Homo sapiens: one gene and its partners. The protein of the gene in region 2 interacts with the protein of the main gene of each other region in a biochemical or structural test. Each region holds a gene or a part of one and is shown on either strand. Other genes may lie near its edges. The genes, in order: IKBKB, PPM1B, MAP3K7, SIRPA and PPARG.

Region 1 (6,256 bases), on a different chromosome or scaffold from region 2:
AGGGCTGAGACATCAGCTGCCCAGGCTGGCTAAGTCGAGAGGCATTCATGCTATCCGGGCTTCCACTGACAGGACCACGGACCTTGCTCTAGGGGACAAAATCAAAAGAAATTAGGAGCCAAGTGATGAATCACATTTTGCATTCACGCCACAGTATTTTCTTAGGAGACAACTGGCTGGCTGCCAGAGGCCAGAGCTAACCCTACAGCCTACCAGTTGGCACCCCCACCTGCGGGTCAACTGGTGCTTCACATCTGGCTTCAAAAGTGTTTCTGTATCAACGGAGACTTTTGAGGAAAGGATTCTAAATTTAAGGAGACCTGGGTGCCTACATTAATTTGCAGGCTTTTTTATTTTCATCAGCTTTACTGATTGATTATGATTGAGAGTCTTGCTCTGTCGCCTGGGCTGAAGTGCGATGTGCGATCTTGGCTCACTGCAACCTCCACCTCCGGGGTTTAAGCGATTCTCCTGCCTCAGCTTCCCAAGTAGCTGGGATTACAGGTGTGTGCCACTACACCCAGCTAATTTTTGTATTTTTAGTAGAGACGGTGTTTCACCATATTGGCCAGGCTGGTCTCGAACTCCTGACCTCAGGTGATCTGCCTCAGCCTCCCAAAGTTCTGGGATTCATGATCCACTGCATCCAGCCCCTTAATGAACTTTTACAAGAAAAGAACAGGAAAGTATTCTTACTGTTTTCCAGGTAGAAGACAGACACACACACAAAGGCTATGGGAATTCCTGTGGCTTGCATCCTCTATGACCTGGCTGAGAAGAAACAAGGACACCCTGACTCCCAAGGGGCTGCAGCCACTGCCCCTCCCAGCCCGAAGGGTCAAGCAGGGGTTCCCATTCCAGCTACCTGAGCCTCCTCAGCTCACAGCCCACGACCGCCGGCCAATCTTCAGGTCACCCCTCTGCTGATCTCTGCCCTGCATGGTCCCCAACCCACCCATGTAGCCCCCCAGGCCCCACACCTGACACTCACTTCGGCCTGCAGTCCTTCATCCCCTCACGTGTCCCTCAGGCCGTGGAACCATCCTGGCTCCACATCCTCCCCTCCAGCGAAACCTCAAGGCCCACACATCAAGAAGCCATGTTAAGCACCCAAGCCTCCCGTTCCTGGTCCTCCTGCTGCACCTTCCCTGCTGACCATGCCTGGGGAGAGGCCCGGCATTGGCCTCCTGTGCTTCTGCCCTGGACCGAAAGTATGGCAGGGGATGGCTCCTGCACTGCCTGGCTCCCTCCCAGCCAGGCCCTGCCCCAGCTCCTGCCCCACCCTGTTCTGTGCTGCACAGCGGCGGCTCAACTCCAGCCTTGCTGAGCGGCCCTTCTCAGTGCTGAGGTTGGCCAGGGACTCAGATCCTCCAGCTGCCTGGAGAGGGACTTCCCCAAATCCCAGATGTGATCATATCCCTACACTCAAGTTCCTTTAATATCAAGGGAAAAGACAGATACTGCCATGTGTCCTGTGTGCTTTGAAAATGGACATAGGCCAGGCGCGGTGGCTCATGCCTGTAATCCCAGCACTTTGGGAGGCCAAGGGGGGTAGATCTCTTGAGGCCAGTTCGAGACCAGCCTGGCCAACATGGTGAAACCCCATCTCCACTAAAAATACAAAAATTAGCCAGGTGTGGGGGCATGAGCCTATAGTCCCAGCTACTTGGGAGGCTGAGGCAGGAGAATCACTTGAACCCGGGAGGTGGAGGTTGCAGTGAACTGAGATTGAGCAGCTGCACTTCAGCCTAAGGGACAGAGCGAGACTTTGTCTCGAAAAAAAAAGAAAATGAAGCGTGGCCCACGTAAGCTCACCCTTGCCTACCTCAGCAGCTTCATCCTCCATTGTGGCCTTCCCCACACACACCAGCCTGTCCCCACTCAGAACACACTGACTCCCCAGGCTCTCTGCCTTTGATAAAGCAGTGTCTCTGTCCTGGAACATCCTCACTCTTCAGCTGGAACAGCTCCTTGTGAACCTTCTTGTTGCTCCCTCTCCTCTAAGACAAGCTGGAGCTCCCCCTGTGCACAGAAACTGCAGCTCATGCCTCCTGGAGCTGCTTCCTAGCCCTTCCTGCCCTGAACGGCTCTCACTCATGCCTCTGTCTGTGCCCCTTGAAGGATCAGGCCCTCCTGGGAACAGGTGCCATGCCTTCTCACCTGTGTGTCTTGCTGGGCATATAGTTAGCATTCAGTAAATGCTCAATGGATGTAGATGGCACATCAGGCTATCACCTGCGCATACCTGCACCTCCCTCTCCTCTTCAGATCCTCTCTACCTCGTCATCCTGTTTTCTCCCGTTCCTCTCTTCTTACAGGAGGATGTGTCAATCACGCTCCCAAGGCATGCTCAGTGCTCTGGCATGCGACCCCAGCCCCTCTGTTCTCTGCACTGTGTGTGGATTGTCCCCTCTGCCTTTGACAATGAGAATCTCCTAATGCACCATCTCCTGCTTCCACCATGAGCAACCATCTCCCTCTCTCCTTCCCTTTGCTCTTAAGGGAAACTGACACCTAAATCACTCTTTCATCCATGTCACCTTCTCTGCAGCCTTTCACAATGGGGCTTGCAGTCCCAACAGCTCTGGCTCCCACAACACGGCCAGGCCTGCCCGTCTCAGTTCTTGGCTGTTTTGTTTCCCATTTCCCCACCATGTGGCATCCCATGGACTCACAGCTACGTTAAGACGGTGTGCACAGAAAGCGTGGCTTACTGCACTGAGGGCAGTGCAGACGCAGACGATGGTCAACCAAGTTGCACTGCCGTGCATGACGGTGGGCTGAATTGGTGGCCCTAAGAAGGATATGCCCACATCCCAACTCCTGGAGCCTGTGAGTGTGACCGTACTTGGAGAAAGCGTCTTTAGAGAACCTGAGATGACATCACCCTGGACTACTTGGGTGGGACTCAAATCCAATGACAAGTGTTCTTGTAAGAGTCACCCAGATAAGGGACACAGGGGTCCCATGAAGACAGAGACAGAGACTGGAGTCACACACCAAAGAACGCCTGGAACCACCAGGAGCTGGAAGAAGCAAGGACAGTCCCTCCCCAAGAGCCCTCAGAGGGAGCTCAGCCCTGCTGACACGGGACTTTCAACTCCTGGGCTCTAGAGCTCAGATAACACGTTTGTTTTTGTTTTTAGTAGAGACAGCTCTGCTGCCCAGGTTGGAGTGCAGTGGCATGATCACAGCTCACTGCAGTCTTGAACTCCTGGGCTCAAGCAATCCTCCCACCTCAGCCTCCCCAAATTGCTGGCGTTACAGGCATGAGTCACCATGCCTAGCCCAAATTTCTGTTGTTTTAGCCCCTCAGTTTGTGCTAATCTTTACAGTAGCCACACGAAAGTAATACACAGATGAATGAAAACAATTAGCACAGGCCCTTCCTCTGACCTCCCCGCTTACACCAAGTCAAAGAACAGCGACGTGAAGCCCGAGCAGCAGCTGAGTGGGCTGCTGGTGGCTCTGTGGTGTCCCGTGTGGGATGGCGGCAGTGCACAGAGGTGGAAAGGCACAGGAGGCTGCTAGGCCAAGGGCCCGGGACCACAGCACTCACTCACACAAGCAATCTTCAGGAGATTCCAGAGCTCCTTCTGCCGCTTCTCCTGCAGCCGGACAACAGTCTTCTCATCCTCATTCATTAAGCTCACCACCTCTTCCACCTTGGGCAACAGTTCCAGCGCCTTCTGCTTGCAAACCACAGTTTTACTGCAAAGAATAAACATGGCAAACTAATGGCATTTGGGCTGGAGAAAGCAGAACCTGTGGCAGCTGTGCATCCAGTCAGCAGCTGCAGAAACTCTCTTCATGAGGTCCAGCGAATCAGAGAGGAGGGAGGAAGGTGACCTCATACCTGCATCTCCCAGTCCTTCCTCCAGAGCAGGAAGGTCGGGGCTCATACCTGAGCTGCGTATAGATCACTCGCACTTTCTTCTCGAAGCTCTGAATTGCCTGAAGCAGCAGCCGTACCATTTCCTGACTGTCACCCTCAGTTCGCTGGTCTGGAGAGAGGGAGGGTAGCATAGTTCCTCAAGGAAGCCAGCAGAGAGTAGTGATGCCCCATAAATGAGATAAGGAGAAGCCCAAGGCAGACACAGAACCCCACTTACCTCGAGGTTTTTCCCTTAGTCTCCTGTACAGCTCCCTTGCTTGCTCCTCTCTAAAATATACAAAGAAGTTCTGTCTAGACTTGAGGTCAAATATGGCTAATTTTTACATTTTTTTGGTAGAGGTAGAGTTTCACCATGTTGCCCAGGCTGGTCTCGAACTTCTGGGCTCACAAGCAATCTTCTTGCCTTGGCATCCCAAGGTGCTGGGATTACAGATGTGATCCACTGTGCCCAGCCAAAAACATTTTTTTTTTAAATTAGCTGAGCATGGTGGCATGCGCCTGTAGTCCCGGTTACTTGGGAGGCTGAGATGGGAGGACTGCATAAGCCTGGGAGGTCGAGGCTGCAGTGAGCTATGATTGTGCCACTGCACTCCAGCATTGGCAACAGGGCAAGACCCTGTCTCTTAAAAAAATAATACAAATACAAATAAAAGAACTAGAGGAGAATAAAGGGTTAATTAGAGAAAATACAGAATCAAAGTTCTGACATTTGGAGCTCCTGTCCTAAGAATCCTAGTGAGAGAATCAGGGAACACTGCTGAGCTCACGGTGACACAGCCCTCAAGCGGCCTGCCTGGTTCCCTCCATCTGTACGCCAGGAGCACATGTGATCTCCTTCAGGTAGGAGTGATCTGCCTAGACCCCTCCGCCCCTCATGGAGCCAATGCCAAATACCTGACAAAGACTCAAACGAATAGTTTCCAGGTCCAAACTCCTAAGCCTCATCAGGTTCTTCCTTCTCTGTTTTACTTTCTGCTCTGAGCTATGCCTGAGTCAGGGTGGGTGGAACAAATCAGGGGAGTCTGCTACAGGGGTAGAGGCTGCTTGCATTTTACAGCCTTTACAGATTATGGCCTGCGTCTCAAATGCATTATCTGAATTCATCCTTACAACTTCGTGACTTAAGACTGTTTTTCTTGTCACTGAACAGATTTGGAAACTGAAGCTCAGTGATGATTTGCTGGAAGTGACCCCACAGGGAAGCATGCTCTAGAGAATGGTCCCGCACAGCCACTGAGGGTGCCCTTGACACACACACCGAAGCTCCAGGGCTGTCTGTGTGTGCTGGGCACAGAGGGGCCCCCCAGCCAGTACTCACAGGTCGTCCAGCGTTCCCCCCTGCTTCCGGCCCATGGGGCTCCTCTGTAAGTCCACAATGTCGGTCTGCAGAGCCATCATCCGTTCTACCAGGAGTTTCACTTCGTTCTCCTAATGGAAAAGCTGTGCTAATGTCAACTGATGTGGTAGGCGCATGCTGAGATGCAAGATCTGCGGGGGAGCGAGACCAGGGGACCCGCCACATTCCCTGAGGACCCTCAATGGACTGGCTCAAAGGAATGTGGACTGTGGGGTCTGAATGGCTGCGCCTGCATCTAGGGTCCACCGCTTTCTAGCTGTGTGACCCCTTGGCAAGTTACTTACCCCCAGCTACAGTTTCCTTTTGCATAAAATAGGCTTCTAACAGGGCCATCTGAGGAGTCAAGTAAGATGAAGTACTTAAAGCCTCTGGCATGGTGCCTGGCATACAGAAGATGCCCAAGACACATTACTTTCTCTTCTCTTCATCTGTCTATCCTGATGCTACCCGGGCAGGGAGGCCCAGACTGTTTTATTTCACAGATTATGAGTCCCAAGATGGGGAGGAGCACTCAGCCCTTCTATGGTTAATATTCACCATTAAACACACATATACTCCATCAGTACTGATTCATAAAAATCGATACTAAGACACAGGTGAAGATCCTTGCCCAAGTACACAGGGGAAAACAGAGGATAAGTCCAGGAAAAAGCCCCGGAGCCTGACTTCAACCTTCAGTTTGTGTGAGGTTCATTAAGTCACATGTATTTCCTTTGCCTTCATAATTAACTTTTTTTGGTGACATCTGATTTACGCTGCCCTGAGACTTTCTGCCTAGACCTTTTATTTCCTATGGATTTAGCATCCCAACAAAATTAGTCAAAAACCTTCGACAAGAGGGAGTGTTGATCATCCATCCAATGCCCTTCCTAACAGGAAATGGTCTTGGCTTTTCCCCAAGGGAACCTAACCCTTGCTTCTTATTTAAACCTGGACCATCTCTGTCCATTCATGCAGCTCTTGCATCTGGCCACAGAGGGGCTCCCTTCACTGGCTACTCTCTT
Region 2 (6,854 bases):
CAAATGGAACAACCTTTCATCCAACCTTATTAATAAGTCCACCTCCAAATTGAGTCATGCCATTTAGTCTATATCAGTGATTCTCAACCCTGGCTGTATATCAGAATTACCTGTCAGGCTTTAAAAGAACAACCCAAATCCACTGAATCTGTGTATTTTGAAATGGAACTTTGGCATGTGTGCAATTTTAAAAGCTCCACAGGTAATTCCAATGTGGAGCAAGGGTTGATAATCACTTTATGTGTAAATCTTTGAAGCAGATTTTGTTTTAATGTCCTGTAATTTTTTTTTAATAAAATGGTAGGTTTTTATCTTTTTTTTTTTTTTTTTTTTTTTTGGTTTGGGGGTTTTCGGGGGAAGAGGGTTGTAGGCCCTGCATTAAAAGGTCTTTGTGATATACCGTAAAGTAGAAAATTTCCTCTTAAAGACTGACAAGGTTTATCATTAGAGTATACTTATCACATGTTGTTCCATCTCAACCCTTCCTGAATAGATTAAAATGGGAAACTTTTTATTTATTTATTTATTTATTTATTTATTTATTTATTTATGAATGAATGAATGAATGAATGACAGGGTCTTCCTCCATTGCCCAGGCTGGAGTGTAGAGGCATGAACATGGCTTACTGTAATCTCAACCTCCTGGGCTCAAGTGATCCTCCCACCTTAGCTTCCCAAGTAGCTGGGACCAGAGGTGTGTGCTGCCACACCTAATTTTTTAAATTTTTGTTTTGTAGAGACGGGGTCTCCCCGTGTTGCTCAGGCTGGTCTCAAACTCCTGGGCTCAAGTGATCCTTTGACCTTGGCCTCCCAAAGTGCTGGGATTACAGGCATGAGCCACCAGCCCTGGATGAGAAACTTTATTTAGGGAAACATGTTTTAAGTCCACATAATAAATTTTGCAATTAAATGACAGCTAATATGCTTGTTGTGGAAAATTGGAAAATTCAAAGAAAATAAAGTATCTAGAACTCCCTACCCATTATCATTATATTGCTGTATTTCCTTTCTTTCCAGGTATTTTTACATATGCTAACATGAACAGATACACAGACGTATATGTATCCAAAAAGCATGGGCCATACACAGTATCATCTTTTTTTTTTTTTTTTGGAGATGGAGTCTTGCTCTGTCGCCTAGGCTGGAGTGCAGTGGGTGTGATCTTGGCTCACTGCAACCTCCACCTCCTGAGTTCAAGCAATTCTCCTGCCTCAGCCTCCCGAGTAGCTGAGATTACTGATGCACACACACCATACCTGGCTAATTTTTGTATTTTTAGTAGAGATGGGGTTTCACCATGTTGGTCAGGCTGATCTCGAACTGCTGACCTCAGGTGATCCACCCATCTCAGCCTCCCAAAGTGCTGCGATTACAGGCATGAGCTACTGTGCCCGGCCCAGTATCATCCATTTTTTGCCATGAGGATACTTCCCCGCCCCATCCCCACCACCACCCCGTCTGAGGCAGGAAAACAAGCACTTTTTTTTTCTTTTTCTTTTCTTTTTTTTTTTTTTTTTGAGATAGAGTCTCACTTTGTCACCCAGGCTGGAGTGCAGTGGTGCGATCTCGGGTCACTGCAACCTCCGCCCTCCGAGTTCAAGCGATTCTCCTGCCTCAGCCTCCCGGAGTAGCTGGGATTGCAGGCACTTGCCACTGCGTGCTGCTAATTTTTTGTATTTTTAGTAGAGATAGGGTTTCACCATCTTGGCCAGGCTGGTCTTGAATTCCTGACCTCGTGATCCACCCGCCTCAGCCTAACAAGCCCTTTTTTTTTTTTTTTTTTTTAAGAGGGTCTCACTCTGTCGTTCAGACTGGTGTTCATTGGTATGGTCATGGGTCACTGAAGCCTCAACCTCCTCGACTTAGCTCAACCTCTCGCCTCAGTTCCCCAAGTAGTTGGGACTATGGGCGTGTTCCTTTTAAACATTTTTTGTAGAGATAGGGTCTCATTGTGTTTCCCAGGCTGGCCTAGAACTCCTGACCTCAAGGAATCCTCCTACCCGTCTCCCAAAGTGGTGAAATTGCATACACGAGTCACTGCTCCTGGCCAATGAGGGCAACTTTTTAAAAAATAACATTCATCTGCTCTCATTTTTCTAATAAAACATTGCCATTTATTATATGGCTTTATTAGTGTTATCTTTGTTGCAAAAGTATATGTAATAGTCTCTAAAGATGGTTAAGAGTTTGTGTCACATCAACTGTATCAATAACCTATTTTGTATTTTATTTTCCCAATATTTTAAGATGAAAACTTCCAAATGTATTTAAAAAGGGGATATGATATGTTGGAACAGCTGTATATTGTCTCTCTAGATTCAACAACTGTTAACATTTTGCCATAGTTGCTTTATTTTTCTTTTTATATCTACTGTTTTTTTTCTTTCTTTGACTGAACCCTTTGAGAGAAAATTGCAGACATCATATTTTACCTGTAAACATTTAAGCATGCAGCTCTTAAGAATGAAGATATTTTTCAGCCAGGCACGGTAGCTCACACCTGTAATCCCAGCACTTTGGGAGGCCGATGCAGGCAGATCACCTGAGGTTGGGAGTTCGAGACCAGCCTGACCAACATGGAGAAACCCTGTCTCTACTAAAAATACAAAATTAGCCGGGCATGGTGTCACATGCCTGTAATCCCAGCTACTCGGGAGGCTGAGGCAGGAGAATCGCTTAAATCCTCGAGGTGGAGGTTGTGGTGAGCCGAGAACATGCCATTGCCCTCCAGCCTGGGCAACAAGAGTGAAACTCCATCCCAAAAAAAAAAAAAGAACGAAGACATTTTTCTGTATAACCATAATACCATTATTATACCTAAGAAAATTCATTTTTTTAAATTTATTTTTAATTTTTGTGGGTACACTGTAGGTGTATAAAAAAATAAATTGTATAATATTGAATATCAAGTTTAAATTTCCCTAGTTGTCACTAGAGTGACTATTGTAATTGTTATTTTGAATCCCAGTCTAATCAAGTTTATCAATCAAGCACATTAAACAAGTCTTTAATCAGTCAAGCCCCTCACCTGTTTTTTTCCCCTTGAAACTGACTTTGAAGAATCTGAGCCAGTTTTTTACAATACGTCCTGCATTCTGAATTCATATGATTGTTTTCTCATGTGTGCTCTAACTTGATCCTCTATTCCCTTTTTTCCTGTAAACTGGGAATTAGCATTATTAGATTCATTCTAAACATTTTTTGGCACGAATACAGGACATGACTGTACTTTATAATGCATCATATCAAGAGGCACATACTGTAAAGATATCTTTATTTTAGTCTGTCGGCTTAACTGTGATCAGCTTGGATGATTAGAGCTTGTTCTGTACAGTATTAAGTAGTTACTATTGTAGAAACCTGTAGATTTTCCAAAATTCACTAAAATATGAAAGGATTGAGTAGTTTATTATTCATACTGAGAATACTTAATTTATTTTTATCTAGAGATGTTTTTATCAAAATAAGAGCAAAAAGTAAATACAATTTTTATCCGTAAAAACTCTAAAATCTTTCAAAAATCTGTTTAAATCTATATAGTTTTATGTTTTGTATTTCCTACTTATTTAGCAGAAATGATGAAGAAACTGTTCTGATGGCCTGCTTTTCTGTCCTTTTCCTACTGCTTTAAACATTGATTTTCTTTTGTACTAAATCATATAGCCAAATATTGTTTAAGTAAGTCAGTTTTAGGAAATGCTTGTGTTGCTGTTGAATTATAAAAGCTGAGTAAATTTCAGATTAAACTTTAAATGACTGTGAAATAAGACATAAACTAGTTAATGGTAATTTGCTTAAAATGACTTGAGATTATTATTGGAAGTTTTTATTAATTGATACAGGTAAGAATTGATATTTAATAAAATGTTCTCATGCTTAGACTATATTACTTTTCGGTAGAGAAATTAGTATTTTGCTGTAATGTGTTATGAAATACATGTGATATCCTAGTTTGTCTACTGACACTGGGGTCTTGAATCTTAAAAAAAGGCCTCCGATGAAGCAGAGGAAAGTGGATCACAGGGAAAATTGGTGGAAGCTCTCAGGCAAATGAGAATTAATCATAGGGGAAACTACCGACAACTTCTGGAGGAGATGCTGACTAGTTACAGGCTAGCTAAAGTAGAGGGAGAAGAAAGCCCTGCTGAACCAGCTGCCACAGCTACTTCTTCGAACAGTGATGCTGGAAACCCAGTGACAATGCAGGAAAGCCATACTGAATCAGAAAGTGGTCTTGCTGAATTAGACAGCTCTAATGAAGATGCAGGGACAAAGATGAGTGGTGAAAAAATATGACTTTCCTTTTTGGTAATATTTTTGTGATCTTTGATGGTTTTTAACCTAGGAAGTGTAATGTATGCATTTATATAACTGTTTTGTTATTTGAATCTTGGAAAACTAGTTTTATTATATTCAGATAGCCTTGTTTTTTAAAAAGGCCTTTGCATACACCTTTATGAGATAGTGTAAAATTGACTATTTATAGTACTATGGATTTAATGAAATTATATGTCATTTCACATTGTATGCCAGAAATTAGGCTACCAATTATGAATTAAAGTCAGTAGTTAAATTAATACTAGATAGAATTAGAAATTTTGATTAGAGAGATTATGCTATATTATGGAAAAACTTGTTAATGTAGAATTATACTGCTTCATATTATTTTACCTATTAGTACACTCATAGTTAGCTTTGTAATAAATTTATGTTTTCTTTAATAATTTTAGTTCTTCAAAGAATGGCTGATGCTGGCCTGTAATTTTTCTTTCAAGGATGATAATTTGTGTGTTGTTTGATTTGTTTATATTTTACATCTCTGTAGTTTTATTTTTAGAAGTTGTGAGATATTGGATGTGTGGCTATTTTTCCTTTCTCTGTATTCTTTATGAAACATAACTTTTGAAAAACCTATGTATTATTCATACAGCTTTGGTTTGTATATTCTGTATAGCCTAACTACACACATCAAAATGTATGTCAACCAAGTGTTTAGAATGAAATTATAAGTGTTTAAGTCCAAATAAAGCATGTGATGTGGAATAATCTATGCATGTTGTACTTATTTTTGAATTAATTTTTTAAAAACAACCAAGTTTGGTATATTGGAAGAATACCCATTAGAAATTCATTTGTATTTATATAACATTTAGAACACTTTTGGCTTACCTTTTTTCATTAACAAAAAGGAAAAGTTTAATATTAAAATATATGTGTTGCATACTTAAATCTATTCTTTTTCTTATCCATCTTTTGTGGTACAAAATATTAATCTTTGGACATTATGGGCACACATTAGACATGTGAGAAAATTGCCACAGTGAGCATTTTAAAGATTGCAGAATTGTCCATTTTGTTACAAATTTTTGTTAGTTATTAAGAAATTGAACAATTATGGGCTATTTTTAAAATAGTGGCAGATGAGAGTTTTTGTTTAAAGGGATTTTTAAATTATAGATTTGTCACATAGGGAAAAATATTTTTTAAAAATTATTTTATAACTGTAGAACATTAACTTTTCGTCTTTACGTTTATATTTATATCATGTGTCTAAAGTTGCTTTAAGTTACCATAAATTGAAACTTCGGAATCTTTGGATGTTATAGCTGATGTTTTGATGTATTTTTCCAATGCCAGAATATTTTTAAGTGCTTTGAGAAAGGAAGGCATTTGATGGAGAGGGGAGGAAAATAACCCAACCCAGTTATCTATCCATATTAGATACACGTGTACACACACAATATGCAATACACAACATCTCTCTGTAAAAGTACCCTTTTCAGACAAAGAAAGGAAGGTAATTTGTTCATCAATTTTGTTTTCTTTTGAAATTCAATCCAATCTGGAAGTGGCATAGGTAAATAATAATATTCTTCCTTTTCTCTTCCTGTAGGGTGCTGGAGATCTAGAAGACCCATGGTAGCCTTAAAAACCTTCTAAAATGCTTTTGATTCTGAAAATTGGGGGAAAAAACTTTTAATCACAATTTTCTTCAATACAAGGGGAAAATATTCTTGCGGATTCCCAACGTTTTGTGATATGAGCAGAAAATCATTAGCATTTCCCATCATTTGTTCATATTTGTGTTTTCTGACAGTTGCCACTTGTAGCATTGCCTGTACTACAGTATTTTTTGCCAACCTCAGGCATACTCGTTACATCTGTATTGAACTTTCGGCCCTAGAAACCAGTGGAGTTATTTCACCACAAATCAACAATGTGCCTGAGGTGCATGGGAAATATAGTTAGCTATACTCTGAAAATACATTATGTTTTTTTTCTTTAAACAAAACACACAACATGTAAGCATGTAAGAGTAAAGAATTGTATGATATGTTCCTTTTTTCAGTTCACCAAGTTGGAAGCCTTTTGCAGCTCTGTGGCTTGGAATTTCATTTGAGCAATTTCTATAGGATATGTATTTATTATTGATTGTTATTTAATTTTTTTCCAATTTTACCTGTATTACCAAACTGGGTTCTCCAATAATGTCCAAATTGTAATGTTGCCTTGCTTCAAGATAAAGTGTATTTGGGAATAATATTATAAACCCTTACAAATTTTATGCATGTATCTACTGCATCCTTCAACTCTCACTAGAAAATCTTTTGAAACCAAATGGATTAATTTATGGCTATTTATAATTTGCTTTGACATCTCACTGTTGGAAATTTTTTAAAGATGAGATTTGCCTTTATAATGTAAATTGTGATTTTTGTTTTACATGTGGGTTTCTATAGTTTTAATTTTTTCAGCTTTTAAGATACGAGTTTTGTGTAATTTGGTATTTTTAATCATTTATGTTATTTTAAAAGCTCAGAATATCACATTGAAATTACTATAAATACATTTAA
Region 3 (6,256 bases), on a different chromosome or scaffold from region 2:
AGATGTCTATCACATTTTAGATGGATATTTAGTTAAGGACCTTTGTAGGAAACTGATTAAAAGCCAAAATGGTTCTAGAGCATGTGATGAGGGAATACCACCATTAATTCTACAACCAAAGTTACACCCAGTTTCAGGTTTCTTCAGTCTCTAGTCTGAATTTAGTAAATGAGCCAATCGATGATTAATGTAATCATTCCAGTAATAACTAAAGAAGAGGTATCCACAAATAGAAACACGCAACAAGTCTGAAAAGTAACTGCATTTTGTAAGTTACTTTTGCTTTTCAGAATATAAATATCCAGCATTTACTCAGTAATTTCTGGTGCTTTCAAAGCAATGATCCTGCTGCTACATGGCACTGATAAGATATCATTAACCATTAAATTAAAGGAAAAGTAATGCCTTTCATGACTTGGAAATTTGAAAGTACCATGACACTCAAATACAGTTAAATAGCCATTCATTTCTCAAAAAAGCTTCATTTAAAAGTGGTCTTATGTATTTTGGAAGACTCAAGTTATGCATAACATAGAACCTACTGATTTAAAGGCTGCCTAAAGTAACAGATGGGCAGGTCATTTAAACTGACGTTCCATTTTGGTGGAAATGCACGGCAGGGGGTGTCAGAACCTCCAAGACCAGTGTCTAGTCATGGATGGAAAAGGAGCATAGAGCCTGGTGTTAAGTGTTACATGATCTGCCAATGCAAATATTATTTCTGCGTGCACCACCATATCAGGAAGGACCACTGACAGCATCTGTATGAGATAGTGTCAAACATTTTTACAAAGACTATCTTCACTGTTACTGAAAATATTGTTTTGCCAATTGTTCTGTGGCATAACAACCAACCTAGTCTTTGCTGGGATTTTGAGCAAGCAGAAAGCAGCTGCAACTTAAAAAAATAAAGAAAAGAAAAACAACAGAAAACTTAAAATTCCTCTCAAAGGAATTACAAAAACTATTCAAGTGGGGGAAAAGGCTTAAGAAGTAAAGTGTACATATTTTAGGATTTCATTTATGTAAAACTGTAGAAAATGCAAACTAATCCATATTGTTAGAAAGCAGATCAGTGGTTGTCTGGGGACTGGGGTGAGAGAAGGGCTCAATTGCAAGGGGCAGGAGGGTACTTTTGGGGCTGGTAGACATACTGAGGATGTTGACTGCTGGGGTGGTTTCACAAGTGAATACATAAGTCAAAACTCTGTAAGCAGCACACTTTTACTTAAATGCTCACCAAATTCTGAGGTGATTTAGCTTTCACACTGACTTATTTGGCAGGTAGGATATCTGCATTTTAAAAAACTGGATGCAGTTTATCATATATGAATTATACCCCAATTTAAAACAATGCAGATCTCCCACCTGCCAAATAAGTCAATGTGAAAGCTAAATCACCTCAGAATTTGGAGAGCATTTAAAATTACAGCATGGCAAATTTGTTTAGATCATAGACTTGGGTTTTAAAAGACATGGGGGTGGGTCTCCATGTTGGCTTTGTTGCTATCTACAGAGCGGTCACAAAGCCCCTGCATCTTCTAGTTATAAGTTATCTCGTTCTATTCCTCTGTTTGCCATTCAATCTAAGATTTTTCCTATGCTCTTCTTCGCATCATGGACTAATAGTGGCCACAGTGTCCCCATGCATGAGATTCTGCCTGAAACAGATGATGATGGAAAAGCAGACTCAGGCAGAAGTCTTAACCTTTAGGAGCCTATTTTCCCATCTGTAAGATGGGAATACCATCAAACTACTGTGTGACTGGAATGGACATGTAACTTGGTATTGGTAATAGCAGTGCAGTTTATAATATATGATAAACAAATATTTATTAAAAGAATGAGCAAATGAATGGATGGATTTACTAAAATGAAGGTAGAGTTTATAAGAATGTGTGCATATGTTAGGGTTGGAAAGCCAGCAGGTTGATAAAGGAATGAAATACCTAATTTAACTTAGAAATACTCTAAGAAATCAGCTTTCTGATGAGAAGAATCACTTAGCAATGTATGACGTGTTGTGCTTCACACAAATTAGGACTCATGAAATTGTGAAGAGCTCCATTTAACACAAAATTTTGAAATGCAAGAGATGATGTGTTAACTGGCCAATTACCCAGCCTCTTAAAAACCATGATTATCGTACAAAAGTGACATTTCAGTTTTTAGTAGGTTCTGTGTAAGGTAAACACGGTGCTAGAGCAGAACACTTCGCAGCTCATTTGCTGATACAAGTCATTCACCACTTTTATGTACCAGTTTAGAATAGGAATCTGAATTTTATTAAAAACAAAAATAAATCTAAAAAGCTTCCTTCAGTTACAAATATGCACAAGAATTTCTGCATTACATCATTTGACATAAAATGTTCTGAATGACAGAAGTAGAAGTAGAACTTACTACCATTTGAAGACAGGAGTTGAGCGCTGAAAACCACACACATTTATAGAAAGAAACCAAAGTTTCACAGGGAAGACCTGTGATCTCTGGCTACAGGAGCTGAAATTAGGAACATGAAAGAAACTTGAAGAGAGAAGACATTCAATACTCTAAAATACTTCAGCAAAAATAGTCAAACATCCGTAAACAACTTGTAACAAATCTTTATATGTTGTGTTGCTATGCGGTAAATATTCTTAACTGATTATTATTCAACTCAAAAAAGTGATTTTTATTGCTCACGAATACTTCCCTCTAGATTAGATAAAAGCTTGCTTTCTTTTCCTGGAGTCAAGAGTAAAATGTAATTAATGTAATTAGGGCTTACTCAGTGATTGTTTTTGAATTTCTTAGACTGGGGCATTCCAGCCACTTGCTTGGCTGTTTGCAATTTTCACCCAAAAAACGGTCAAAATAAATTGTAAAACCAGAACGAATAAGTTTGGCTCCTTGTTAACATTTTTATTTGCAGGATGGATGAGGAAACTGATGAAACTGGCTGTGGATTTTAATTATCCCTGGTATCTTTTTCTCCCATCTCCAAGGATCATCAGGACTTAAAAGCATGAAATTGACAACACAACTACTTAAAAACAGAGTAAGGCTGAACTGTACTCAATGTCCAGGGCAACTACAGTACTGAAAATCTCAAGGAACTTACTGTAAACAAACAAGCAACTGTTCAACAGCCTCTTGCATTTGGTACCATGACTAAAATCTACTATTTTCTTCCATTTACCTATCTGGATATTTTTATGAAATGACTACATGTAAAAACCATAATAAAATTTCCCTTAAATGTGTTATAATACAGCAAAACACATCAATGACTATAAATAAAATCTGAAATCTCGAATGCTAAATCCTAATGGAAACATCAAGCCTTAGCATTCACGCTTGGATATCTCGTGCTGAGATAAAAGGCCTCTTTAAAGTGACTAGGTCCCTTTCAGTGGAGTGACAGATGTACATACAAGCAACAATGCTATGGAGGAGTCATGCTTTATCCTAGTCTACAGTTATTTTCTCTGCCAATTTTATTTTACTATTACTATGCTGAATCCAATATCTGTTTCAGCTAGGTAATCAAATTTGGGAACAATTAACACTCCTTTTATTTAAATTAAATGACAGAAGACATTTATTTCCAGGAAGCTTTCTAAAATAGCTTTTGAAGAAGCTAAAAATAACAGTTTAGTATTCACCTGTATTGCTTGTATACACAAGGAATTCATTACAAAACTCAGTGGTAGGAGGAAAAAATAATGGAAGAAAAAGTTACCTGCTTTAGCATTTTAAAGAATAGTTTTGATAACTTCTTAGATCTTGCTTATCTGAAATAGAGCAAAAACTACAATACAGTCATGATAGAATTCTAATAATCACAGCAATTAATGCTTTCATTTTGAACTTTTTCTTCATAAAACATTAATGCTATAAAAATCAGACTGATGACATCCTTATTTAAAAGACATCTTGTACTGGTATCAAAATGTGACTTATTTTAACACCAACTGAAAAAATATAGAGTTTGTATAGTCTATTATTTCAGTGTCATTTTATTATTAAAGTTATTCTGAAGGTTTTGGTAGCAAAATTACTGTTAACAATATAAATACTCTGTAAGTGTTGAAATTCTCTTGAAAGTGTTGAAAGGCGGCAGGCATTCTAGAACGGGATTGTAAGGAAAATCAAATATTCCAATATCCAGGATAATTAGGACACTTGTTGAATTTATATTTGCTTCTTTAACTTCCTTCTGATTTGCCTGGTTTATTTCTCATTTGGTATCATAAAAAGAAATCTAAGTCCAAGCTTTTTTTAGCTGGAGTAATTACTTCCATTTTCCATTATTTTTCTTCATTTTTTTTTTTTCAAATACATGAGAAAACAATCCAAGAATCACTGCAGGAAGAAATGATCATTTAAGCTCAATCATGTTCTTTTGCCTTTTAATTTCATTTAAGAGATTAATATTAGAGTCATAAAAGCTTTACAGTTTCAACACACATACACACAATCACAGAATTAAAAATCTTTACTCCTTAAAAAAAAATGAGTTCCATTTTGTTCAATGTATCACAATCAAATTTTAGTCTAACAAAATCCGGTAAAACTGCTTTCATTAAATAGAGCAGCTGCCACTTACCTTTACATATTTTACGGATGGAACTGAGTTCAGTACTGATCCAAGGATGCTGGCATCAAAGCCCTTACACGGAACTATCCCTAAAGGTTCCGTATTTCCGTAATATACCACCAATCACTCTAAATTTATAATACCCTGTCTTTAACTTGGTATATACCATCTTTTGGGAAAAAAATTATTAATATTTTGAGATGAGATACAAGAATAAAGTCATTCTTGAGGTTCCACCTCTAATATGAAAAAATGGACGCTGTTTGCACATAGCAGCTAGTTTGATACCTCCTGTTCTGTTAGGCTAGCCTTCACACAATGAGCATGCATATACAGCCACAGTTCACTGCATCTGTTTTGAAGTTGCAAAGTGCTGCTCATTCAAGTCACAGATGCTACCATGTTATGCAATGAAACAGTAAAATTGTATGTCCACCATGAGAAAAGGAAAATAAACAATGAAAAAAATGCAGCAAATATAGGCAGTTGGCATTCAGAACACGCCAAAAAGCTAACACTCATGAATCGTCATTATAAGGTTTTCCTTTCCTTAAAAAAAAAGTCTTTCTTTGCATATTTCAAAATGTAACGGTCCCAGAGAATCATGAAGTGCCTTGTCGTTTCTGCTGCTGACTTCTGATGACCTCTAGTTGTTTTTTGCATTGCTGGTAGTAAGTAGAAAGGCTTTTGTTTTCATCTAAAAGCTTTTTATGTTCCTGTACCAGGCGAGATGTATTTTGCTGGTCCTTTTCATCCTGGTCCAGTTCTGCAACTAGTTCTTGCCTACAAACAAATACCACATAATATTACACATGATGGAAAAATTCATACCTTAGTAGCTGATGATGGAAGCTCAATTAATGAGAATTTTTATTCTTGGTTTATCATTTTGCATCTTAGGTACACTAATCAAATATAATTATGGGCTGGGATGGAACTCTCATCTACTTCTAGTGTAATCATACAAATAACATAATCCTTTTATTAAGTAACTGTACTTGGATAATTAGCGAAGCAGATAAAATGGTAAAATAAAAGTTTCAGAAAATTTCATTTTCTATCCTCTTTTTGTGTAGGAAGGATGAAAAAAGGCTGGGAAGGGTTCTATGTGGCTATGGGAAAATATCATGAAGTTTTTATCCTTCACATTCTACTTTTATACTGATTCACATTCTGAAGTCACAATCCTACTTAACTATAGCAGAGAGTGGTAAGCTAATAGCAAATTTGCAATCTAATTAAAATAAATGCTATCCAATTTAAAGCTTTTTCCCATTTTAAAGCAGTGAGAAAAATGACAAAGTACCACTTCTTTTAAAACACTTACATTTGCAAGCACTTTCAGGAAAGACCCTCATTCTTTTATAGTCTGATAAACTTATTTAAGTCCCTCTTATTTGGGAACTATTAAGTATTCCCGAAAAAGATGCATCTTTAGGCATTTCCTAAAGTGAGGTTACTGGATATAAATGAATAATTAATAAAAAGTCCTCAAGCAAAATAACTAACTAATACTACTTCTGAAAGTATTTAAAATTGATTAAAACTGTCATAGTTTTCACAGCCAACACCCTAATCCACCATTTGTTTTTTCCAGCATAGAATACTTCTTTCAAATGATTAAAGTATGGCAAAAGTATAGGTTAAATAAGTGAAATAAGAAATCAAGCTTTT
Region 4 (6,256 bases), on a different chromosome or scaffold from region 2:
CTGCCTCAGCCTATGCTTATTGCTATAGAACTGCAAGAGTTTGGAATGAGTAGGGTGGAGCATTTCTCCACACTTTGACAAGCATAGCTGAGTGTTACAGAGACAGGGGCTGTGAGTCAGGCTGGTGGGGATCAAACCTTGGCTCCCCCACTGGCTCACCACACAGGTCTCCTCTCTGAGCCTCAGAGTCCTTATCTGTAAAGGGGGCAAGAAATGGCTCTTCCTTCATAAGTACTTGTTATAAAAGGAGAAAGTGCCAGGATGAGGATCCAATCCAGCTGCTGCTCCCTGGCCCCCTCCCACCTCCCTCCTTTCTCATCCAGGGCATCATTTAGGCTGACAGCATGGCAAAGAGGAGTGAGCACTCTGCTAGGAGTCAGCAGATCTGGGTCACACCTGAGCCACGTATTTGCTGTGATTGTCTAGGCACGAGATGCATCATCTGGGAACTTCAACGTCTTTTCCTGTAACATCTGCACAATCAGGATAAAGCCACCCTCCCTGCCTATGTCCAGCGGTTGTGGGGAGACTTGATTGTTATAATGTCTAGGAGGGAAATTAGGCCATATCCACACACATTAAAACACACACCCCCTCTGATCTAGCAATGGCACTTGCAGTGGGCGTCTCCCACCTGAGTAAGGTCACACATGTATAAGGTCATCCACTGCAGGACTGTTTTAATAGTTCAAGTTTGGGGACAAGTTACGTATCCATCAATGGAAGATGGTAAAATAAATCTGGTATTTCCATAAGCTGGAGTATTCTGTAGCTATTACACAATGGAGCAGGTCTCTATCCTGATATGAAATCTCAGTATCAAATGATATGGCTTACATTTGGGAGCGGTTTTCCAATCACCAGTGGGCCTAACGGTCTGAATGTGAATATTCTGAACCTTTAGGAAACTGATGGAAAGGAGAAGTGCTGGCTTCCTGCTTAGCAGTTCTGTTCAAGGAGCTTTCAGTCGGCACCTATGATGCACCAGGCTCTTCTATGTAAACAATGGCTAATGAAGGAGCCTCCCTGGAATCAGATGTGGGCTCTGGTCCAGATCCTGTCACTAACTGGGCCTATGACTGTGGACAAGGCCCCTGTCATCTCCTGACTTCAAGTTTCCACCTGTAACTAGGGGTTGGGCTGGATGGTCTGAGGGTCCTTCCTGTACTAATGTCCCAGGATTCGGAGTTAGAACAAGGATCCTGGGGCTCTGGCAGTAAATACAAAATGAGCATCTTTGCTGCCTTAACGGAGGAACCCAAAGTCACCTAGAAGGGAGACCTCCTCCCTGGGGTGAGAGACATTCTATGATGACCCAGCTTTGTTCAGAGCCTTTAGTGACGCATGAATCAGTCCCTAAATCACACAAGTGTTTTTCTAAAAGACCCACAGAAAATGCCCAACCCTCTGGCTTCTCCTCTCACCAGGGCCATCAGATTAAACAGTAAATCTGTGCCTTTTAGGAATCTTCTCAGTTGGTGTTTGGTGATGAAATAAAGGAAACACACCCTCTCTGCTCCCTGCCCTGGGTGGATCTCTTATTGGAAGGGATGAGAACACAAGCTTGGCGGAGCCTGGCACACAGTAGGTTCTCAGTGAGTGCCTGTCACATAGAGGAGACTCGGCTGCCCTGAGAGGGAAGTGCTCTCTGGAGGCAGCAGGTGAGGTCTGGTCCTGTGCCTGGGCAAGTCACACTATCTGTCAGTTTCCTCATCTGTGGAATGAAAGGGCTGGGTCAGCTTTGAAGAGGCCAGGGCTACACAGCCAGGCAGATGAAGGATGCAGATGTTCCCACCCTTTACCAGCTGTGGAGCCTTCAGCAAATAGCATGACGTCTTCAGGCCTCAACTTCCCTTATTTGTAAAAGGGGGAGACATCAATTCATGGAAAGGAGCACCTACCACCACACCTGATCATTGCTCAAAGAATGGAGGGTGTTATTATTGAGTTACTGTCACAAACCAGAGGCAAAGGAGGCCCACGCTGTACTCACCGCGCACAGACAGCTCAGTGCCTGCTCCAGACTTAAACTCCACGTCATCGGGGCTCCCTTTCCGGAACTTCACACAGTAGTAGGTGCCGGCATCTGCTGGGGTGATGTTACCGATGCGGATGGAAAAGTCCATGTTGTTTCTCTTTGTGAGGTCTGAAACAGTTGTTACCCGGGGGAAGTGGCCTTCTTTTTGATTGTAGATTAATTCCCGGCCTGGTCCAGCTCCTCTGAACCACTGGATGGGCCCCACAGGGATCAGAGAGGTCGCAGTGCAGCGCAGAGTGGCTGTCTCTCCAGCTGCAACCAACACGGACTTGTCAGGCTGAATCACCTGCAGCTCCTCCTCACCCGCCACTCCTGGAAAGGAGCACAAAGCAGTCATTTTTTCATCCTTACGTGATCCTCTGTGTTTCCTCAAGTGTTTATCAATGACGTTCATTGACTGGATGCACACCAGAAGCAGGCTGTGAGATCAGTATAGTGCATGTATCATCTCATTTGACCCTCACAACAAACCTGCAACATGAGCCTGTATTCTAAGTGGGGACACTGAGGCACAGAAAGCTAAATGACATGGCAGAGAGTGGGTTTGAATGCCTGGACCCTCTCTGGAAGAGTCACATCTGAGCTGGGCTAATTCTAATCTGAATGAGCCAGAAGGGAGCCTGGTATTCCAGACAGAGGGAACAGCCTGGGCAAAGACTCAGAGGTAGGGGCCTGGCATATCTGGGGCTGTACAAGGTGTTAAGATTCTGTTTCTGGCCTGGCCCAGGATGCAGGCCCCGAGAAGGGAGGCTGTACTCAGCGGTTTGGGCAGTAGGAGAATGTAGTTTGAGTTCTGGATCAGTGGCCTATAGCTGTGTCCTTGGGCCACCACTCAGGTAACCAAGAATATCCAATGTAGACTCGTGCCAGTGTGTTTGAGTCCCCACCTGGAACCCAGGACTGAGCCTGGCTAGCAAAGTGTCACACAAATGCAAGAGCTGCCCTTAGTTTGCCCTTACTGCTCTCAGCCTTGGTTTCTTCATCTGTAAAATAGTTACTATGACCCCACCTCGATGGATCTCTGGGAGGATAAAATAAGCCAAGGCTGGGGACAGCGTCCAAATGCAGCATCTGGTCTTTAGAGTCATCGGACCTGGTTTGAAACCTGGCTCGCCCCTTGTTCTTGTGGGACCTTAATTTATCCATCAGTTTTGAGTCTCAGTTTTCTTATCTACAGGATGGGTAGAACAGCCCCCAGGCCTCTGCTTTGTTCTGAAAAGAAAACGAGATCACACATAGAAGTCACTTAGCCCTGAGATGGGCCCTGAGGAAGTTGTTGTTACTATACATTGAATAAACAAGGAGGTGGCTGTGGCTCAAACTTCACTCTCACCAACACCTGCTGATGCCCTGTGATCCAGGCCTCACTGTGATGGGGACACACTGGAGCTGGACCCAGTCCAGGCCTCAAGGGCTCCCAAATGGGCAGCTGGAAGGAATTGTAGAGGTTGGCTGCAGGAGCCTGAGCCCCAATCAGAGACACTGGGGCACACAAGACAGGGACCCTGGGTGGAGAGATTGGGGTGCACGGGGGGAGCCCAGACAGGAAGAGGGCAGGACGAGCTTGTCATGAGATGCGTTGAAGATGGATAGGGACCAAGTGAGAACAGTTCAGAGCAAGGCAGAGCCAGGGCCTCGATTCTGAACAAGGTGAGGTACAAGAAACAAAAAAAAGAAAGATCATGATCATAAAGACCTCAGAGAAACACATGCCTGAGAGACAGACGCAGAGTGAGAGAGCGAGCTAGAATAGGGGAGAAGGAGAGAACCAGGTAGACAGAGGAGTGGCAGCTACCTGGTATGCAGGTGACAGGTGACCTGGGGCCCCAGTTGGGCTCTCCACTGACCCTTCATGTGACCTTGTCCTGCCCTGACCTGGGCCACCTTTGCCTTGTACATCAGACAAGGCTGCGGCAGATGTCCAGAGCTGCTGTGCCCCTCTGGCTCTGGCTGGGGAGGAGAGAGACCCTGTGAATTTGCCCACCAACCCATGGCCTGGCACCACCCCACTGGCAGGGGCAGGGCAGCCAGGGAAAGAGGCTCACAGACCCCTATCTGCCCTCACTGCAGGAAGCCCAGGGCTATCTGCCCATTGTCCTGCCTCTTTCTCCCATTCCCAGCCTCACCCAGTCTTGACTCTGGCAAGGGATCACCCTTGGGGCCCGGTTCTCATGGCAGGTGAGTGGAGTCTCAGAGTGCCTAAGACCACTCCACCTGCTTTGGGTGTAAATATTACCATTTCGACTTCCTTTTCCTGATCAACCACTTAAGACCTCAACTGCTTTTATTATCAGGAAGTCCAGCTTCTCATTTCATTTCCATTTGAAGTTGAACATGGCAAGATCTTCATGGCACAGGAGAAAAAAACAGAACCCACAGTGGACAGACAGAACCCACAGTGGACAGAGGCCCAGCCAGCATCAGACGGCCTGAGAGGGGTGAGGCTGGTGGCCAAATGTGTGGGAGGCCCGGGAGGCCCATCCAGGCGGGGACATCAGAGGCAGCACCAGCAGCACTGAGCTAGGAACTTTCCGGATAGGTCTGTATTTCAGCCTCGAGACTGGACCAACTGGAAAGGCTGCCTCGGGGAAGCACAGTTGCTAGGGCCAGCAGGCCTGGGTGACAGCATGGCTCCCCTCTTAGCCACCTCTGTACCCACCTTCCCTGGACCCCCATTCCATCATCCATGAAGTGGGGTTCCGGCATCCACCCCAGCACAGTCATGAGGACCCTGACACGGTGGTATGCCTGCTGCATAGGTGCTGGGTAAGTTTTAATTCTTATTCCCATTATTATCACATAGCTGTATTATTCACATATTTGATTTTCTCTGGATTGTCACATTCCCAATAGTAGGATGTAGGATCCACAAGGGACTGTTTCCAACCTCCTGCCTAAAACACAGTGTCATCGATAAAAATATGCAGAATGAATGCGGTAATGAATGAAGGAAGGAAGGATGTCGTTGGCTCCATGACCCTGGGCAAATCTCCTCTCTCTTCATGTGTTAGGTGGAGTTGATACTGGCATATCCAGGGGAGGGTGCAGGCCCGGAGCCCGGGACTCAGCCTGGCTTGCAGTTATTATTATCCTTATCAATAACACCACAAGGGGCTGTGAGTCAGCAGTTGGTGAGGGAGCAGGAGGCGCAGGAGAGGCTGCGGAGTCAGGCGTGCAGCATGTTGGAGCAGGGCTATTCTTGTGGTGCAGCCGGAGGCCTGTAATCACACCCCAGGCAGGCGACAATAAAATCTGGAGTTGTGTAGCGCTGGCTCCCCCATTTTTTTTTTAGCTCCTCTCGAGCTCTCTCCACCGACTGCAGCCAGATTTAGGCGGCTTAATTAATTAGCTAGTGTTTATAAAGCGTTTGAAGAATTTTAAAAGTGCGACGTAAGTGCCAAATATTATTTTAATCTGTGTATGTGTATGTTTTTTCCAGTAGAGAGGGGTTTTTTTTTTTTTTTCCTTGCTTGCTTTCTTTTTCTCTGCAGGTTCTGTTCTGAGAATCAGGCTTGTTAAAAATCACTCCTGGCTCTGGGTCTGGGGTCACTTGCTGGCCAAATTATTTCCTGCTTTCTCTTGCCCTCCTAGCAGAGGATGCGACTGTCCAGGGGCCTGAACCGTCTCAGGGAGAGGAGGGCGGCTGGGCAGGCATTCCCACGCACTGCCGGTGGGAGGGGAAATTGGAACATCTTTTCGGGAAAGCAGCTTGGCAGGATGAACCAAAGGTGTGAAATCTGTTCACCAGCCTTTGCTGGGCTGCTCCCTGAGGACGTAACCCCAGATATGGAGTAGGTTTCCTGTATAACGATCTTAAAGACATTAGAAAAAGCCCAGCCGGTCAATGATAGGGGATGGTTAAGTGAATTACGGCCTATCCCCTATGTGGAATTACAGGCAGCCGTAACAAGCCATTACCATGAAAACGGTGGTCATATAGAAATTTTCATGGCATCATTTTAAATAATATTGTGTTTATGCAAATAAAACCTGTTCATTGCAAGGCATTTAGAGAAAATAAGTATGGAAACAAAGTAATAATCTCACATCATACCATCAAAGATAACTGTAATCAACATTCTGATGTAGTAAAAATATGAGTGAAGAAAAACAATCTAACATCATACCTTTAGGTAACTAAGAATATGTGCAGACATTTTGCTTCATTCACTTAAGTGTCTGTATGAAAATAAAAAATTGAAAATATCCTAATATCCA
Region 5 (6,256 bases), on a different chromosome or scaffold from region 2:
TTGGCTTTCCCATGAAGCAGTCTGGCCCCTGGAAGTTGGATTAATAAGCTACGACTGGCAGGTGAGAAGAATTAAAACTCTTTCTGAAGTAGGGATGAATAGACATACAAGTGGCTAACAAGCATACGGCATTCTTTTGTATACAGAAATACAAACTTAGATTACATTGTATTGTATGGTAGACTGTATTTACTTATATCTTTAGGTACGGCTATGGTTCCAAAATGATCTTTCACTAAAGATAAAAAATAGGATGGAACTTACCAAAGAAAAAAATATATCTCCAACATGTAAACAACAAATAAATGATAGCTTTCCAAGCTCTAAATTATATATATCTTTCAGTTGCTAAAGGTTTTATTTTACATAAGTTTGCAATATTAACATACCCAAGAATCTGTAACTATTTCACCTTAATTCAAACCCAATCTACTCATTCTCATCTGTCTGACTGAATTTTTGGCAAGAATCACTAATATAAACCTGTTCCATTTACATTGTAAAATTGTTTAGGAAGATCTACCAAAAGTTGTTTTATGCTGTGTTTATTCTTTTCAATCCATAGATAAGCCTGCAGCTTTGTGGTCAACTGTATTTTAATTATGAATATAACCCACATTTTACTACAACAGCAAATGTGAAGCTTCCAAAACACCTCTCAGAAAATACATGCAGATGAGTTAAACACATTTGCTAATTCCATTTTCCTGGCTTTTTATTGCGTATTGGTTATAAGCTAAGGAGATGTCTTTACTGACAGCCACTGGTCTAATGCAGCAGTATTCAGAATGTGGCAGCAATTTTGTCTAGTTTCAAAGTAGCAAAGAATGAGTAACTGCATTTCTTCAGAATGAGACTGAAGGCTTTATGGTTGCAAGATCCCTTTACTCTTTTTAAAATTATAGAAGACCCCAAAGAGATTTTGTTTATGTGGGCTATCTTTACTGACATTTATCACACTAGAAATTACAACTGAGAAATTATTATATACAAGAACACATAAGCAAACATTCCATTAGCTACCAGAGCTATGTCATCATCCTACATCATGTAGCTTCCAGAACACTCCACATACACTCCTGAGAGAATGAAAGTGAAAAAAGTAATAAAAATCATTATTATGAATATAGTTTCAACTTCATGGATGCCTTGAAAGGGTCCAAGCCCCAGACCACACTTTGGGAACTGCTGATGTATACTTGAAGAAGCCAAATGATAATGTTTCATTATGTAACCACATCCTACCAATATCATCTGAATCATTTTCTAGATGAGAAAACCTGAGTAGGATGTGGTTAAATAATGATATATGCAAATGTACCTCACATAGTATCTGGTACATACTAAGAATTCAATAAAAATCAGAATAAGAATTCAAAAAAAGTTTCCTTTTTCGACCCATCATCCATTTAGGAATCAAGATGTCCTAATTCTTTCCTAACTGCTGTTCTATATCTTTACGCCGAATAAAAACCCCAGCCGAAGCAGGGTTTATTTTATAAGGTAAATATTTATGAAAAATTTATTCTGTGCAATCAGTATACAATAAATGCTATTTTATTCATTGAGTATATTAAAATTATTTTGAAAGACTGCATATCAAAATATAAGTGGATTCACATATTTTCTTTATATTAAGTAGTATATTACTAAATGTTTAAATTTTCCAAGAATAATATTTTTCTTATTCTTACCTTTAAAACGTGTAGATGTCTATTTTCCCTTTCCAAGGGAGTAAAACCTTCCTTACATTTTAGTCTAGGAATTCTGGAATCCACATTTTGGATGGTTTGCAAATTACTGCAGGTTAGTATACAATACGCTTAGTTTTCTTCTATGTTTGCTTTTTAATCTATGATAGGTTAAGGACTCCCCTAGAGTCTTCAGGTTTTATTAAGTATTTTTTCTCCCTCCCTGCTTTCTACCCTTTCTAATCCTAAGTTGAAGGCACTTGGATTTCCTCCTCTCTCTTCTCTTTTTGCTACTCTTCTTCCCTGCTTGCTTTTAAGTTTTAGTGCCCTCAGAACTCAGATTTATCACTATAACCAACTACTGACAATGTTCTTGTCTTTCCATTTTCAGCTGTTTTCAGTAATGTTAGCTTTCCACAAATTTGTGACTAATAGGATTATGGTGGAACTATTTGCTTAAAAGTTTTAGTTTTCTAAGTGCTTTACTAGCCCATAAAAAACAATAACTTATTGTGGAACCTTAAACCAACCATGCTGTTTTTATTTATTTATAGTTGTAAATTATCAACATGACCAAAACAGAATGGTTTCTTCAGATAAATATGGCTCAGAATTTAGCAACAGTTTACTCACTCAAAAATGGTATCCAACTCAGTAAAAATAAACTCTAACTCATTAAATCTAAAATAAAACTCAATAAAACCACAAAACATTCAATAAAAAATCTAAGTCAATAAAATGACATGTTCTTACTACTCATCAAGATCTTAGATAACTGACTTAATACAATGATTTCATATAAGGTCATAAATATTTTAACTTGGTTTAAATTACAGAACGAACGGGTTTTAGTGTTTTAAATGAAAGCATCTCTTGCCAGAGTGTTTCAAAGTGTCATTTTGAAATTACAGAACTTAGAGATGAATAAGACCTTGTGTAGCCAATCTAACCAAGTCATTTTACATATGGGGGGCCTGATGAAGGATACAATGTGTATGTGACTGGCTAATGACTTTGGAAAGTGGCAGAGCTGACCTCTGGTTTGTCCCTTTTCACTGTATTAGGTTGCCTTTAGAGTAAAAACTGTTTCAATTGAAGGGACTTTAGAGATCATGTAATTCAGTGTCATTTTATTTATTTACTTATTTATTTATTTATTTTTGGAGTTAGGGTCTTGCTTTTGTGACCCAGGCTGGAGTGCAGTGGTATGATCATAGCTCACTGCAGCCTTGAACTTCTGGGATCAAGGGATCCTCTTACCTAAACCTCCCAAGAAGCTAGGACTACAGGCATGTGCCACCATGCCTGGTTAATTTTTTAAAAATTTTGTAGGGATGGGGTCTCACTATGCTGCCCAGACTGGTCTTGAACCCCTGGGCTCAAGTGATCCTCCTGCCTTGGCCTCCCAAAGTGTTGGGATTAGAGGCGTGAGCCACCACACTCAGCCACAATCATTTTATAGATGAGAAAACCTGGGTAGGATGTGGTTAAATACTGATGTATGAAAACGTTACCTCATACAGTATTTGGCATGTAGTAAGAATTCAATAAAAATCAGTTTCCTTTTTTGGCCCACCATCCATTTAGGAACCAAGATGTCCTAAAACTTTCCTAACTGTTGTTCTGTATCTTTACGTTGAATAAAAAGCCCAATAAGCAGGTATTTATTTTATAAAGTGAATATTTATGAACAGTTTATTCTGTGCAATGCGTATATAATAAATTAGTACTATTTTTGCATTGTGTATATTAAAATTATCTTAAAAGACTGCATATCAAAATATGAGTGGATTCACATATTTTCTTAATAATTAAGCAATAAATTACTAAACGTCTGAATTTTCCAAAATACCCTTTTCACAAAGGAAAGAGATGAGGATAAATAGTATCTCCTTTCCCACACTGTTATACCTCCTTACCTGTCCGTGTATGTGGCTCACATTGATGCTGGAATAAGGAAACATGAGGCACTGCTTTGAGAGCCAACACCACCTAAGGAGTCAGGGTCTAGACTGCGGTCTGCCACTTACTAAGGGATGACCTTGGCAAGTTTTACTAACCTGTAATTTCTACATCTGCAATGTGGCCATAAAGAAGTCCAATCTTATAGGATTGCTCTAGGGATCCAAAGATATGCATATATAAATAATCTGTAAAATCTTCTGTCTATACAATATTACACGGTATAGCAAAATAAATAAATAAATAAATAAATAAACAACTAGAGAATGCAGGAAATCTGCATCCTGGTTCCAGGTCATCACTGTCTTGCCATGACACCTTGGAGAAGTCACCTTTTTGTAAAAATCTGCAAGATGCAAGGATTAAATTAGATCAGTGTCTCAAAGAATCAATTTGGAGAAACAAATGTGGGGCAAAGCAGCCCAACTTTTATCCACTTTCTTAGGCTTTCAAATCTTATATCATCCTTTGGGAGGCTGAGGTGGGAGGATCACTTGAGCCCAGAAGCTCAAGGCTGCAGTGTGCTAGGATAGCACCACTGCACTCTGGTCTGGGTGACAGAGCAAGATACTCTTCCATGAAGAAAAAAAATTCATATATTGTATCACCTAAAAAAGGGGTTCTGCTGAAATGAAATAATAAAGTTTCAACAATTTCTTTGAAGACTTTTTTTTTAATTACCTTGCATCCTTCACAAGCATGAACTCCATAGTGAAATCCAGAAGCTTTATCTCCACAGACACGACATTCAATTGCCATGAGGGAGTTGGAAGGCTCTTCATGAGGCTTATTGTAGAGCTGAGTCTTCTCAGAATAATAAGGTGGAGATGCAGGCTCCACTTTGATTGCACCTGTGTATGGAGACATGTGAGAGGATAATTATCCCATGAAAACAGTCCTAAAAAGGCAACAGGGCAAGCCACCATAGTACACCTTCATGCTGTATTTGTATTGTTTCAGTGTAAAAGCACAGTGGAACATGAAAAAACACTGGAGTTAAGGCAAGAAAAAGAAAGGTTTGTAATCACAGGCAAGTTATAACATCTCTAAGCCTCACCTGTAAATATAAAATGGGAATGAGAATTAAGTCTGTGGTTCTATGACCCCCAGTAGCCTGCAATACTACAGCTGTAACAGACAACATAGAGGATTTGAGACAAGGAAGCTTATTTTGCTAGGAAATGTTCTGTCTTTGGTATTCATCACAATATTAAATTATACATTTTATTTAAATATTCCATTTTATAAGTACTTTGAAACAACTTGCAAAAGAACCACAGAAGGAACACCACTGTGAAAAGGTCATGGTATGCCTAGCTTGAGGTGCATGAAAAATATGAGCCCAGGTTACCATTAGTGTTCAGTCAAAGGAGGTGGTTTGTGAAATAATCTTTGACAGAGCGTGGCGGAACTTATGGAAGTAAGCCCTACCTTTTACTAGTTGGGCTCAGGGCTACTAAATTTCCATATTAGGCTCTAACTGAAAACCGCATAGATAAATATAACTAAGCATATTATTTATCTTTAAAAGCCACTAGAAATACAGGAAGTTCTTACTTGTCAAGTAATGATTGCCAATTACATAGTGGTGGCTTTGGAAAACCAGCATGTCAGCCCACACATGATAAAAATCAAGGAAATAGCATCACAGAAATACATTTTATCTCAAAAAGTGCAGTTCTAGTTTTTCTTGAGTCTGATGTTTTGATGTTGATTTAGTTAATGGCATGAAAATTTATCAATAGGCTACAATGTTAAAACAAATTTGTGCTTAAAAGTAGGTTTCAGTATAAACTCCTGAAAGGACATACTAGAAAAAATGTACTGTAGTAGCAGTAATATAGTGAAGATAAGTTATATAATACAAAGTGACTTGGAATTGTTACTTATTAACTTATAAGGGGCCAAAATAATTCAAAGTTTGGATGATGGACTCTTAGCCTGAGATACAACTGACAGTGTAATCAAGGTAGAAAATGTCCCTAAGAAGGAAGTAAGCAAGAAAGGAAAGAAGAGAGGAAGGAAGGAGGGGGCGGGGAAGGCAAGATTGACCTCGTGCCAGCTCCCTTCCTGGCATTTCATAGATACCTAATATTTCATGGATAAATGGGTGAATAAATGAATGGTGAATGCCTTCTCTATTAGATTTCTAGTCTCTGGAGCATTATTTATTACAGGGTTACTGAGAGATGAGTCCAATTCTAGTCCTAGTAGTCTGAAAAGTGAAAATAAACATCATACTTTGGTACTCTTGAAGTTTCAGGTCATACTTGTAATCTGCAACCACTGGATCTGTTCTTGTGAATGGAATGTCTTCGTAATGTGGAGTAGAAATGCTGGAGAAGTCAACAGTAGTGAAGGGCTTGATATCAAAGGAGTGGGAGTGGTCTTCCATTACGGAGAGATCCACGGAGCTGATCCCAAAGTTGGTGGGCCAGAATGGCATCTCTGTGTCAACCATGGTCATTTCTGAAAGGAAAAATAGACTAGCTGTGAAGTTAAGTCCTAGAGAACACAGCAATCTCACAGAGTTTCAGAAAGAGAAATGAAAAGAGTCTTTGGCAAAGTAATCTCATCTGGGCGCTCACAACAACAGAAAAGAA

The links.
Region 1: of the proteins of PPM1B (region 2) and IKBKB, one has a biochemical effect on the other in vitro, tested with the Homo sapiens proteins (one study listed by BioGRID).
Region 3: the proteins of PPM1B (region 2) and MAP3K7 form a complex in vitro, tested with the Homo sapiens proteins (one study listed by BioGRID).
Region 4: the proteins of PPM1B (region 2) and SIRPA form a complex in vitro, tested with the Homo sapiens proteins (one large-scale study listed by BioGRID).
Region 5: of the proteins of PPM1B (region 2) and PPARG, one has a biochemical effect on the other in vitro, tested with the Homo sapiens proteins (one study listed by BioGRID).

The regions. Positions count from the first base shown.
Region 1 is NC_000008.11:42,319,802-42,326,057, reverse strand, and holds part of IKBKB (inhibitor of nuclear factor kappa-B kinase subunit beta), read right to left. Parts: intron 5,324-6,256; coding exon 5,214-5,323; intron 4,163-5,213; coding exon 4,113-4,162; intron 4,005-4,112; coding exon 3,905-4,004; intron 3,712-3,904; coding exon 3,564-3,711; intron 772-3,563; coding exon of another isoform or gene 733-771; exon of another isoform or gene 697-732; intron 89-696; coding exon 1-88.
Region 2 is NC_000002.12:44,226,423-44,233,276, forward strand, and holds the end of PPM1B (protein phosphatase 1B), read left to right. Parts: intron 1-3,570; coding exon of another isoform or gene 3,571-3,579; exon of another isoform or gene 3,580-3,990; coding exon 3,991-4,296; 3' UTR 4,297-5,050; downstream 5,051-6,854.
Region 3 is NC_000006.12:90,511,317-90,517,572, forward strand, and holds the end of MAP3K7 (mitogen-activated protein kinase kinase kinase 7), read right to left. Parts: intron 5,366-6,256; coding exon 5,185-5,365; 3' UTR 2,263-5,184; downstream 1-2,262. UniProt on the Homo sapiens protein: Serine/threonine kinase which acts as an essential component of the MAP kinase signal transduction pathway. Plays an important role in the cascades of cellular responses evoked by changes in the environment.
Region 4 is NC_000020.11:1,911,193-1,917,448, reverse strand, and holds part of SIRPA (tyrosine-protein phosphatase non-receptor type substrate 1 isoform 1 precursor), read right to left. Parts: exon of another isoform or gene 3,127-6,256; coding exon of another isoform or gene 3,048-3,126; intron 2,351-3,047; coding exon 1,994-2,350; intron 1-1,993. UniProt on the Homo sapiens protein: Immunoglobulin-like cell surface receptor for CD47. Acts as docking protein and induces translocation of PTPN6, PTPN11 and other binding partners from the cytosol to the plasma membrane.
Region 5 is NC_000003.12:12,379,570-12,385,825, reverse strand, and holds part of PPARG (peroxisome proliferator-activated receptor gamma), read right to left. Parts: intron 6,123-6,256; coding exon of another isoform or gene 6,115-6,122; coding exon 5,895-6,114; intron 4,505-5,894; coding exon 4,335-4,504; intron 1-4,334. UniProt on the Homo sapiens protein: Nuclear receptor that binds peroxisome proliferators such as hypolipidemic drugs and fatty acids.